Linked DNA regions of Homo sapiens: region 2 is linked to region 1. A link means that fine-mapping ties the variant in region 1 to the expression of a gene that starts in the linked region. Tissue or cell type: prefrontal cortex. Region 1 holds a variant in brackets; the other region holds the start of a gene. All regions are shown on one strand. Distances are from middle to middle.

The links. PIP is the estimated chance that this variant, and not a neighbour inherited with it, causes the effect.
Region 2: LINC01409 starts here. The variant in region 1 is fine-mapped to the expression of LINC01409 in prefrontal cortex (CommonMind, PIP 0.95).

Annotation. Positions count from the first base shown.
Region 1 is chr1:815,126-820,275 of GRCh38, forward strand. FAM87B (family with sequence similarity 87 member B) reads left to right here and starts at 2,246. Exons shown (of 2, transcript NR_103536.1): 1 at 2,246-3,077; 2 at 3,598-4,709. RefSeq lists an enhancer at 2,261-2,360. The variant C/G (reference allele first, on the strand shown) is at 2,969.
Region 2 is chr1:775,724-780,873 of GRCh38, forward strand. LINC01409 (long intergenic non-protein coding RNA 1409) reads left to right here and starts at 3,075. Exons shown (of 6, transcript NR_187359.1): 1 at 3,075-3,369. LOC100288069 (a long non-coding RNA gene) reads right to left here and starts at 2,911. Exons shown (of 20, transcript NR_168328.1): 1 at 2,561-2,911. RefSeq lists an enhancer at 2,628-3,197.

The sequences.
Region 1 (5,150 bases):
TGAGTGGCTTTGTAGTAGGGATTACAGGTCCAGAATAGAATAGGTTCAGTAACATATTTAAGATATTTAAGGGAAAAAATATAAGCCAAAGATTTAACATCTAAATAGTGACTATCAAGGGTAAAAGTCACACATATTTTTTATGAGTACACACAAACACAGGAAGTACGGTGACCAGGAGCTGAGGGATGACCCACTAAAGAATAAGCTCCGGAAACCAAAATGACTAGAGGCAGATGCAAAGGTGAGCTGCAGGTGGTCTGTATTTATCTGTGGAGCTGCTGGCACATGACGGTGATAAAAGTGCAGCATGCCATGGTTACCAGCTTGGACAATGCAGACAAAGAACAACCACCAGAGAAGTGGTAGGGGCGGGCAGAAGATGTGCAGGGGCCAACTGGGACTGGGGTGTCCATCAGCTAACTGCAGTATCAGGTACTATGGGGAGCCAACCAAAGAAACTAAGTGTTTGCTATAAAGGCATTAGGATAAAAGTGGAAAAAAAAGAGGAAGAAAGCCCTCTTAAATACCAAAAGGGTAAAAGCAAATAAAATAGAACAAGGTGGTTCCCTGTTATCTGTGATGTAAAAAATGGACTTGGCTCACCTATTAAATGGAAAACAGTCTTGGATTGGCTCACAAAGCAAAATCAAACACCATACTGCATATAAGATATACAGCTATAAAAGGCTGGGAAAATATATAGAGAATTTATAGGACTCAGAAAAAAAGTAACTGTCACAGGAAACTTTATAGCATTAAATACCTATATCAATACAAATTTAAATAATAAAAATAAATTATTTAAACATATAACTGAAAAAGCCAGAAAAAGAATAAGTGAACCAAAAGAAAGGGGTGAATTATTACAAATAAAAGCAGATATTATTAAGTAGAAAAAGAATAGAACTAAGAAGTAAATCCAAAAGCTGGCTCTCAAGAGAAAATAATCAACCAAAACAAACCACTAGGTATCTGATTAGAAAAAAAAAAAAATAAGAAAGTTACAAGTGCTAACAGAAGAAAATTTAAACATTGTAAAAGATAAGGAAAAGAAAGAGATAGAGAGAAAAACGTGTAGATTAAAAGAGACTTTAAAAACATATCAAATTTTAAGAATAAAACAACACTAAACTATAGTGTCTAGGGATATACACTTGGTGATAAAACTATAAAGATTAGGGAAATGATTACCATAAGAGTTTGGGAAGTGGTTATTTTTGGGGAGAGGAAGTAGGTTATAATAGAAATGGGACATGTGGTGGGCGCTTCTGGGATGATTGATAAAGTTCTATTCCTTGACCTGGGTGTGGTTACAAGGATGTTTCCTTTATAAAAATGAAGAAAAACATTAAAAAATCATTACAGGCAACTTTATAAAACTCTTTGCAGTAAGTTAGAAGTAGATGAAACATTTTTTAAAAATATTAAATTTAATGCTATTCCAATACAAAATCAAGTTTTTTTCTTAGAGCTAAACAAGTTAATTATAAAATGCATTTAAGAACAAGAAGAAACTATCCTAAAATTCATATGGAATGAAAAGAGAGCCCAAATAGCCAAAGCAATCCTAAGCAAAAAGAACAAAGCCAGAGGCATCACACTACTCAACTTCAAACTATACTATACAGCCCCAGTAACCAAAACAGCTTCTGTACTGGTACAAAAACAGACTCATAGACCAATGAACAGAACAGAAAACTCAGAAATAAAGCCACACACCTACAACCATCCAATCTTTGACAAGGCCAGCAAAAGCAGCAGTGGAAAAAGACCATACTATTCAATATATGGTGTTGGAATAACTGGCTAGCCACATACAGAAGACTGAAGCCAGACCCCTACCTTTCACCATATACAAAAATTAACTCAAAATATATTAAAGATTTCAATGTAAGACCTCAAACTGTAAGATCCTGGAAGATAACCTAGGAAATACTCTTCTTGACGTTGGCCTTGGCAAAGAATTTTTGGCTAAGTTCCCAAAAACGATTGCAACAAAACAAAATTGGCAAGTAGAATTTAACTAAATGAAAGAGCTTCTGCACAGCAAGAGAAACGTTTGACAGAGAATACAGACAACCTACTGAATGAGAGAAACTATTTGCAAACTATGCATCTGACAAAGGCCTAATATCCAGAATCTACAGGGAACTTATGCAAAAAACGTTCACTTTCTGTCTGTGTTCACGTCACCAAGAGAATAGAAAGGAAAAGGGAAGAATGCAAAAGTCAAAGACACGTCACCCTCCTTGAGACAGCCCTCCAGTCCAGGCCAAATCTCAGCCTGCCCTTGGTCCGCTGTGGTTGGGCCTGCACCCAAGCCATGAGCACACGCAGCAATTGTGGCAGCAGAAGCTTCCTCTGGGCTCAGACTCAGGCTGATGCTGCGTCAGGACCTGCCGCGGTCTCGGCTGGGCTTCCTGGGACTCGGTGGTTGTGGGCTGATTGTAAAGCACGGAATGACTCTTAGAAACTGGGCGTCATTCTTTGTGGTTTTCCAAGCTTGGTCTCTGATGATACTCCAGGTCTTAGGAGACATGCTGAATATTTATTATGCTTACATTCAAGCAACATTAACCCTTAAGGTTGATGTAGCTCCCCGTCTTTTTTTCCCAGAAGGAGGAGCACTGAAGGAACACTTTTCCAGTATGGATTCTTTCCAGCTCCGAGAAGCTGGAGGCACACGGATCCCTCGGCCAGCTCTCATCTATGGACGTGCTGTAGTCACAAGGACTGTGACTAAGGCTCAGTCCCTGAGGACTGCCTTGGCATGGGCTGCTTTAGGCTGTAAACACCCAGTTTTATCCACTTTATGTGAAGAAAGCCAACAAGGGGCATGGAGTGAGTTCCGCAGGTTTTAGCGGCTGCGGCGGCTGGTGCTCAGTGGGGATGATGGCGGGAAGGCGCCTCCCTCTGTGGGCCCCGAGGTCTGTGCGGGAATCAGCTCTGCAGCTGTGTCCAGGGG[C/G]AGCCGTAGACCACACACGGCAGGCTCACAGCTCTGTTCCATGAGAACTTTATACACAAAAGCAGACGGGCTGGGCTTGGCCTCTGGATCATAATCTGCTGACCCCTGGGTAAGAAATTTTAAATATTTACTTATTTCTGTTCAACAGAAGGGGTGATATACTGAGGAGTGAATAATGGGAAAGATCTGATTCGGCTGTATCAGGAAGGACTGGTGTAAATTCAACTTATTAACTGAATTCACAGTATTCGTGTTTTATGCCTTTAGGGGTTAAAAATGGGTCACACACGAGCAGCATGCACTTCACTGGCGTGGCAGGGCACCTCAGTGTTTACATGTGTGGTTCCCATGCTTACCAGGGCTGGAGGCCCCTGTGAGTAGTGAAGTGCATGTGGAGTTCTGGATACTTTTCCTGGCTTTCTCTATTTGTGTGAGCTTGTGCAGTTAGAGGTTTGGGCTGAATTTGGGTAGAAATGGGTGGCTCACAGGCTGCAAAAGTTCTGTGGACACTTTTTCCCCCAGCTGATTAATGTTGTAAATATTAGAATATTGTTACATAAAAGTCTGGATTTTTAGTTTCTTTCACATTGGAATAGCTGCCAACATTGGGCCTGCATTCATCTCTCTAGGGCAACGTCGGCTGCAGCTGAGATGGCTGCTCCCCGGTGGGGTGTGTGCTCGGCCTGCAGTCCCCGCCCTCCGGACTCCATTCGCCTCCACTCTCAGGTTTGCACCTCGTCATTGTCTTCTAATTTTGCATCCCTGGACTGCGTGACCTACAAGGCTCTCAGCACAACAAGACTCTATGATTCTGTCTATTGGAACAAAAAGCCAGTGAGGCAAGTGTATCATCCTGTTGATGAATTCACAGCATTAACTCTGGGAGTTGGGGACAGTGTGTATTCTTCCTCCAGACACTCTCTGTTTCTCCTGGATGGAAAGGTTCTGCTACTTGTCCCGTGGTCAGGCCCAGCCAATGGAACGGAATGGAAGTGACTCTGCCCCTTATTGGCAGAAACTTTAAAAGCCGCACAACGTTCCTGCACCCTCCCCTCTGCCATGAGCCTGGCAGTGCTCAGGATGGGAAAATTATCTCACCTGGGCCTGAGGATACAGGAGCTACCCCCAGCCTGCAGTGGAAGAGAAGCATGGACAAGTGATTAAACTTTGTGTTTTCAAGCCACAGAGGTTTTTTGAAGTTGTTTGCTACCATGCTTTGTCCCTACAAACACAGTCATGGAGAAGGCCAGTGGCAGAGCCTGAGCCGTTCGCGCATCTGTTCACCAGTATCCAGAATAACAATAGATTTTTGAAACATTCCTGAGAAAATTCTGGGAGTTGCATACCGGCCAGTCTTATTCTCTAAAGTTGTTCCTTCTAAAGGGTGTGATGACCGAAAATTTCAGAAAAGCAAACCACCGCTGAAAGGCAACGTTATTTCTGTTGGCAGAAGGCGGCCTGAGCAATCTAGATTTTCCACGGTTCACCAACTAGTTTTTAAGGAAATATGGCTGTGAGAGGAATAAAACATGATTCCTACCTTTAAGGAACTCAGAGAAGTGAATTAAAGGAAGTCACAGATCAGACAACCAACCACACAAAGTTTCTAAGAGCAAACTGTTCAGGTCGGCAAGTCACTCTTATCCACTGTTTTGCCTTCTAAGGTTTCAGTTACTCTCAGTCAGTCATGGTCCAAAAACATTAAATGAAAAATTCCAGAAATAAACAATACACACGTGTTAAATCATGTTTCATTCTGAGTAGCTTGATGAAGTCTCATGCCGTCCCACTCAGCCCCACCTGGGGTGTGACACCTCCCTCTGTCGAGCAGATCCACCCTGTCTATACTACCTGCTTTTCCAGGAGATCCACCCTGTCTAGACTACCTGCGTGGCCAGCAGATCCACCCTATCTACACTACCTGCTTTTCCAGCAGATCCACCCTGTCTACACTACCTGCCTGTCCAGCAGATCAACACTGTCTACACTACCTGCTTTTCCAGCAGATCCACACTGTCTACACTACCTGCTTTTCCAGCAGATCCACCCCGTCTACACTACCTGCCTGGCCAGCATATCCACCCTGTCTACACTACCTGCTTTTCCAGTAGATCTGCCCTATCTACAATACCTGCTTGTCCAGCAGAACCACCCTGTCTATACTACCTGCCTGTCCAGCAGA
Region 2 (5,150 bases), 39 kb before region 1:
TCCCAGCTACTCGGGAGCCTGAGGCAGGAGAATCGCTTGAACCCGGGAGGTGGAGGTTGCAGTGAGCCGAGATCTTGCCACTGCACTCCAGCATGGGGGACGGAGCAAGGCTCTGTCAAAAAAAAAAAAAAAAAAAACAGAAAAAGAAAAAGAAAAAAGAATTAGAGACATCTGGATCAAATCAGCTGCCAGTCTCGCAAAGTGTCGGGTAACATCCTATTAAGCTTGCTGCTTACACATCATCTATAAAATACTGAAAATATCATTTTAAGAAATCTTTTTTTTATTTTGAGACAGAGTTTTGCTCATTGCCCAGGCTGGAGTGCAATGGTGCGATCTCAGCTCACTGCAATCTCTGCCCCCTGGGTTCAAGCAATTCTCCTTCCTCAGCCTCCTGAGTAGCTGGGATTACAGGCATGCACCACCACGCCTGGCTAATTTTGTATTTTCAGTTGAGACAGGGTTTCTCCATATTGGTCAGGCTGGTCTCGAACTCCTGACCTCAGGTGATCCACTGACCTTGGCCTCCCAAAGTGCTGGGATTACAGGTGTGAGCCACCATGCCTAGCCAAGAAACCCTTATTTTAAAACAAGCCAGGCGCGGTGGCTCATGCCTATAATCCCAGCACTTTGGGAAGCCAAAGCGGGTGGATCACTTGACGTCAGTAGTTTGAGACCAGCCTGGGCAACATGTTGTAACCCCATCTCTACTAAAAATATATTTTAAAAATTAGCTGGGCATGGTGGTGGGCACCTGTAATCCCAGCTTCTCAGGAGGCTGAGGCAGGAGAACCACTTGAACCTGGGAGGTGGAGGTTGCAGTGAGCGGAGATCACGCCACTGCACTCTAGCCTGGGTGACAATAGAAAGACTCCATCTCAAAAACAAAACAAAACAAAACAAAACAAAAAACCACTAAAAAAAAGACTCCATTTCAAAAACAAAACTAAAACCAAAAACACAACACAAATGTAGTACACAAATGAAAATAATTACTGTGTTAAACACAGTTTCATAGAAAATAAAAGACCAATCAAATACAATAAGCTGCCTTTTTAGATGGGTATGTTATTCTTCTTTCACAGCTAAAGAAACAGGCTCAGAGAATGTTATTTGATTGGACCGTGTTGCATTTCTGGACAGTGCAGCTGAGATCAGACTTTGTGTGTAACTCCACTAGCCTACCAGGGTGCCTCTCATAAAGCTAAGAAATGTAAATTTGGCCTAATATACAAAGTTGCCAGGGCAGCACTGGGTCAATTCTACATACAGTACTTCTATGTTCATCAAGGGAAACCTTAAGGGAAAGTGAAAATGCTTCTAGAAGGCGACTGGACACCAGCGCCTTTGCTTGTTGCCTTTGGGCTCTTCTTCTAAGGCCAACAGTGACCTGAAATTATTGACTGGCTTTTCAATCAAGTGGACAAAATGGTACCAAGGTCGGCAACATCAGACAAATTTACTTGAGGGCCTTATCTATGCGCTTTGAAAGACAAAACTGCTTTTGTAAAGGACACTGTATTTCAGAAAAACATAATCATATTAACAAATAATAACACTGTAAAATGCTGATGTGTTGAATGCTACTTTAGAAAAACATGCTCAAATCTAGGGAAAAAATTTGATACAAAACTACGTATCAATTATCTAGCTAGCTATCTATCTAGAGACATGCTTTCATTCTATTGCTCAGGATGGGAAGCAGTGGGATTATCATAGCTCACTGCAGCCTTGAGCTCCTGGCCTCAAGTGATCCTCCTGCCTCAGTCTCCTAACTAGCTAGGGCCACAGGTGGACACAGTTATGCCTGGGTTTTTGTTTGTTTGTTTTGTAGAGACAGGGTGTCACTACATTGCCCAGGCTGGTGTCAAACTTTGGAGTCTCGCTGTGTCGCCCAGGCTGGGGTGCAGTGGTGTGATCTTGGCCCAGTGCAACCTCTGCCTCCCGGGTTCAAGTAATTCTCCTTTATCAGCCTCCCAGGTAGCTGGGACTACAGGCATGCGCCACCACGGCCAGCTAATTTTTGTATTTTTTGTAGAGACTGGGTTTCACCATGGCCAGGCTGGTCTCCAACTCCTGACCTCAGGTGATCCACCCGCCTCGGCCTCCCAAAGTGTTGGGATTACAGGTGTCAGCCACTGAGCCTGGCGGAGCACTTTATGTTATTAAGTAGCCTAACCCAGGTGGGTCGCTGTCCCTCACGCCTGTAATCCCGACAACTCTGATGGCCAAGGTGAGAAGATTGCTTCAACTCAGGAGTTCGAAACTGGCCCGGGCAACATAGCGAGGCACCCCCCGACCCCATCTCTAGAAAAAAATACAAAAATTAGGCCAGGTGTCCACCGCGCCCGGCTAATTTTTGTATCTTTTGTAGAGACGGGGTTTCGTCATGTTGCCCAGGCTGGTCTCGAACTCCTGAGCCCAAGCCATCCATCCTCCCGCCTCGGCCTCCCAAAGTGCTGGGATTACAGTAGGGCCCAGCCAGCCTCATGTTTTATTTAGCAGTCCCTCCCTGTTGCACACCTGGATAGTTTTTTAAATTTTTTTAGACAGGGTTTACCTCAATCTCGCAGGCTGGAATGCTGTGGTGGGATCATAGCTCACTGGAGCCTTGAACCTTTGGGTTCAAGTAGCTGGGGGGCTGAGGTAGGACTACAGAGATGGGGTTGCGCCATGTTGCTAGGCTGCTCTTGGCCTGAAGGGTCCTCCCGCCTCGGCCGCGCCAGACATAGTTTTCTATTTTTGACCAACATAAACACTGTGCTGGGTCTGAATTTTTCAGCTACCCTTCTTCAGCCGGCAACACACAGAACCTGGCGGGGAGGTCACTCTTACCAGTCCCCACTCTGATGAGAAAACTGCCCAGCTCCAGGCACCATGGCGCCCCAGTGATGTAGCCGAACACCCGCGCCTCTAACGTCGCCAACGGCCCACCTCTATGGTGTCGGCGAAGACCCGCCCTTGTGACGTCACGGAAGGCGCACCCTTGTGACGTCACAGGGGACTACCACTCACGCAGAGCCAATCAGAACTCGCGGTGGGGGCTGCTGGTTCTTCCAGGAGCGCGCATGAGCGGACGCTGCCTACTGGTGGCCGGGCGGGATGTAACCGGCTGCTGAGCTGGCAGTTCTGTGTCGCTAGGCTTCTGCCCGGCCGCCGCCGCACATAAGCCACGAGGAGGAGCTTTACGACTTCCCGGTCTTCGGCGCCGGGCGCAGCAAGGGCCAGACTCTGCGCTAGCAGGCGCTGCGCGCCAACCGGCCGGCACCTGTCGCAGAAGGTGCAACCGATCGCACTGTCGCGCAGAAGCTCCTCAATGGCCAGCGCCAGCTGCAGCCCCGGCCGCCCACTCGCCTCATCTGAGCCTGGGTACGTGCGCTCCACAACGCCTCCCCCAGCCAGGGCCCGGGGATCCCCGGGAGCGTCCCCGGCTACCTGGCGCCGCTCATCCTGGGTAGGGTCGGCCCCCTGAGGCTGCCCGGCATGAGGGAGTTGCACCCCTGAGCTTGACCTCTGACGGTCCTTTGTAATAGCATTAAGTCTTTGAAACTTGTAGCGGGGTAGAAGGGGCTAGGAAATGAAGAAAACATCTTTTTAAAAATATAAGCAGTCGGCTGGGCGAGGTGGCCCACACCTGTAATCCCAGCACTTTGGGAGGTCGAGGCGGGTGGATCACGAGGACAGGAGTTCAAGACCAGCCTGGCCAGCATGGTTTCACTGAAACCCCGTCTCTACTAAAAACACAAAAATTAGTCGGGCGTGGTGGCAGGTGCCTGTAATCCCAGCTACTCGGGAGGCTGAGGCAGAGAATTGTTTGAACCCGGGATGCGGAGGTTGCAGTGAGCGGAGATCGCGCCACTGCACTCCAGCCTGGGCAACAGACCAAGACTCCGTCTAAACAAACAAATATATGTGTGTATATATATGCGATCGAGCCCGGGAGGTTGAGATTACAGTGAGCTGAGATTATATAAGCGATCGAGCACTGGAGGTTGATGTTACAATGCGCTGAGATTGCGCCATTGCACTCCAGCCTGTGTAACAGAGGGAGACTCTGTCTCTAAAAAATTATATGCAAGTGAGAGCTTTTCTTCCAGCACTCATGCTCAGACTGAAGAAAGTAATTGGGCCAGGCCCGGTGGCTCACGCCTTTAATCCCAGCATTTTGGGAGGCGGAGGCGGAAGTGGGTGGATCACTTGAGCTCAGGAATTCCAGACTAGTTTGGGCAACATGGTGGAACCCTTTCTCTACAAAAATACAAAAAATTAGCTGGACATGGTGGCACGCGCTTGTAGTCTCCGCAACTTGCCGGGCTTAGGCGGGAGAATCGCTCAGCTGCAGCCTCGACCTCCAGGGGCAATCCATTTCAGCCTCCCAAAGTGCTGAGATTACAGGAATGAGCCATCGTGCCTGGCTTTACACTATATTTTAACACTTTTTTTGAAAATGGAAACTTTTACAGGCAATTCACTTCCTTCAAACTAATGATAAGGAAGTGATGCTGTTCTGTTCTGTTTTGTTTTTTGTTTTTGTGGGTTTTTTTTCTTTTTTGAGATGGGGTCTTGCCCAGGTTGGAGTGAGGTGGTGCAAACAAGGCTCACTGCAGCCTTGACCTTCGGGCTCAAGGAATCCTTCCCCGTCAGCCTCCCCGGTAGCTAGGACTACAGGTGCATGCTACCACGCTTGGCTAATTCTTTTTTTGAAATGGAGTCTCACTCTGTCTCCCAGGCTGGAGTGCAGTGGTGCAATCTCGGCTCACTGCAGGCTGGTCTCAACCTCTGACTTCGGATGGTCCACCCACTTCTGCATCCCAAAGTGCTGGGATTACAAGTGTGACCCACCGCGCCTGGCGATTTTGCTCATTTTAGATACTAGAACTTTTTAATTTAAAATTTTTTTTTCCTGAGATGGAGTCTTACTTTGTCTCCAGGCTGGAGTGTAGTCGCGTAATCTCGGCTCACTGCAACCTCCACCTCCTGAGTTCAAGCGATTCTCCTGCCTCAGCCTGCCAGAGTTGCTGGGACTACAGGTGTGCACCACCACACCCAGGAGTTCAAGGCTGCAGTGAGCCATGATCGTACCACTGCACTCCAGCCTGGGCAACACAGCGAGACCCTGACTCCACAAATAAATAAATCAACGTCATATG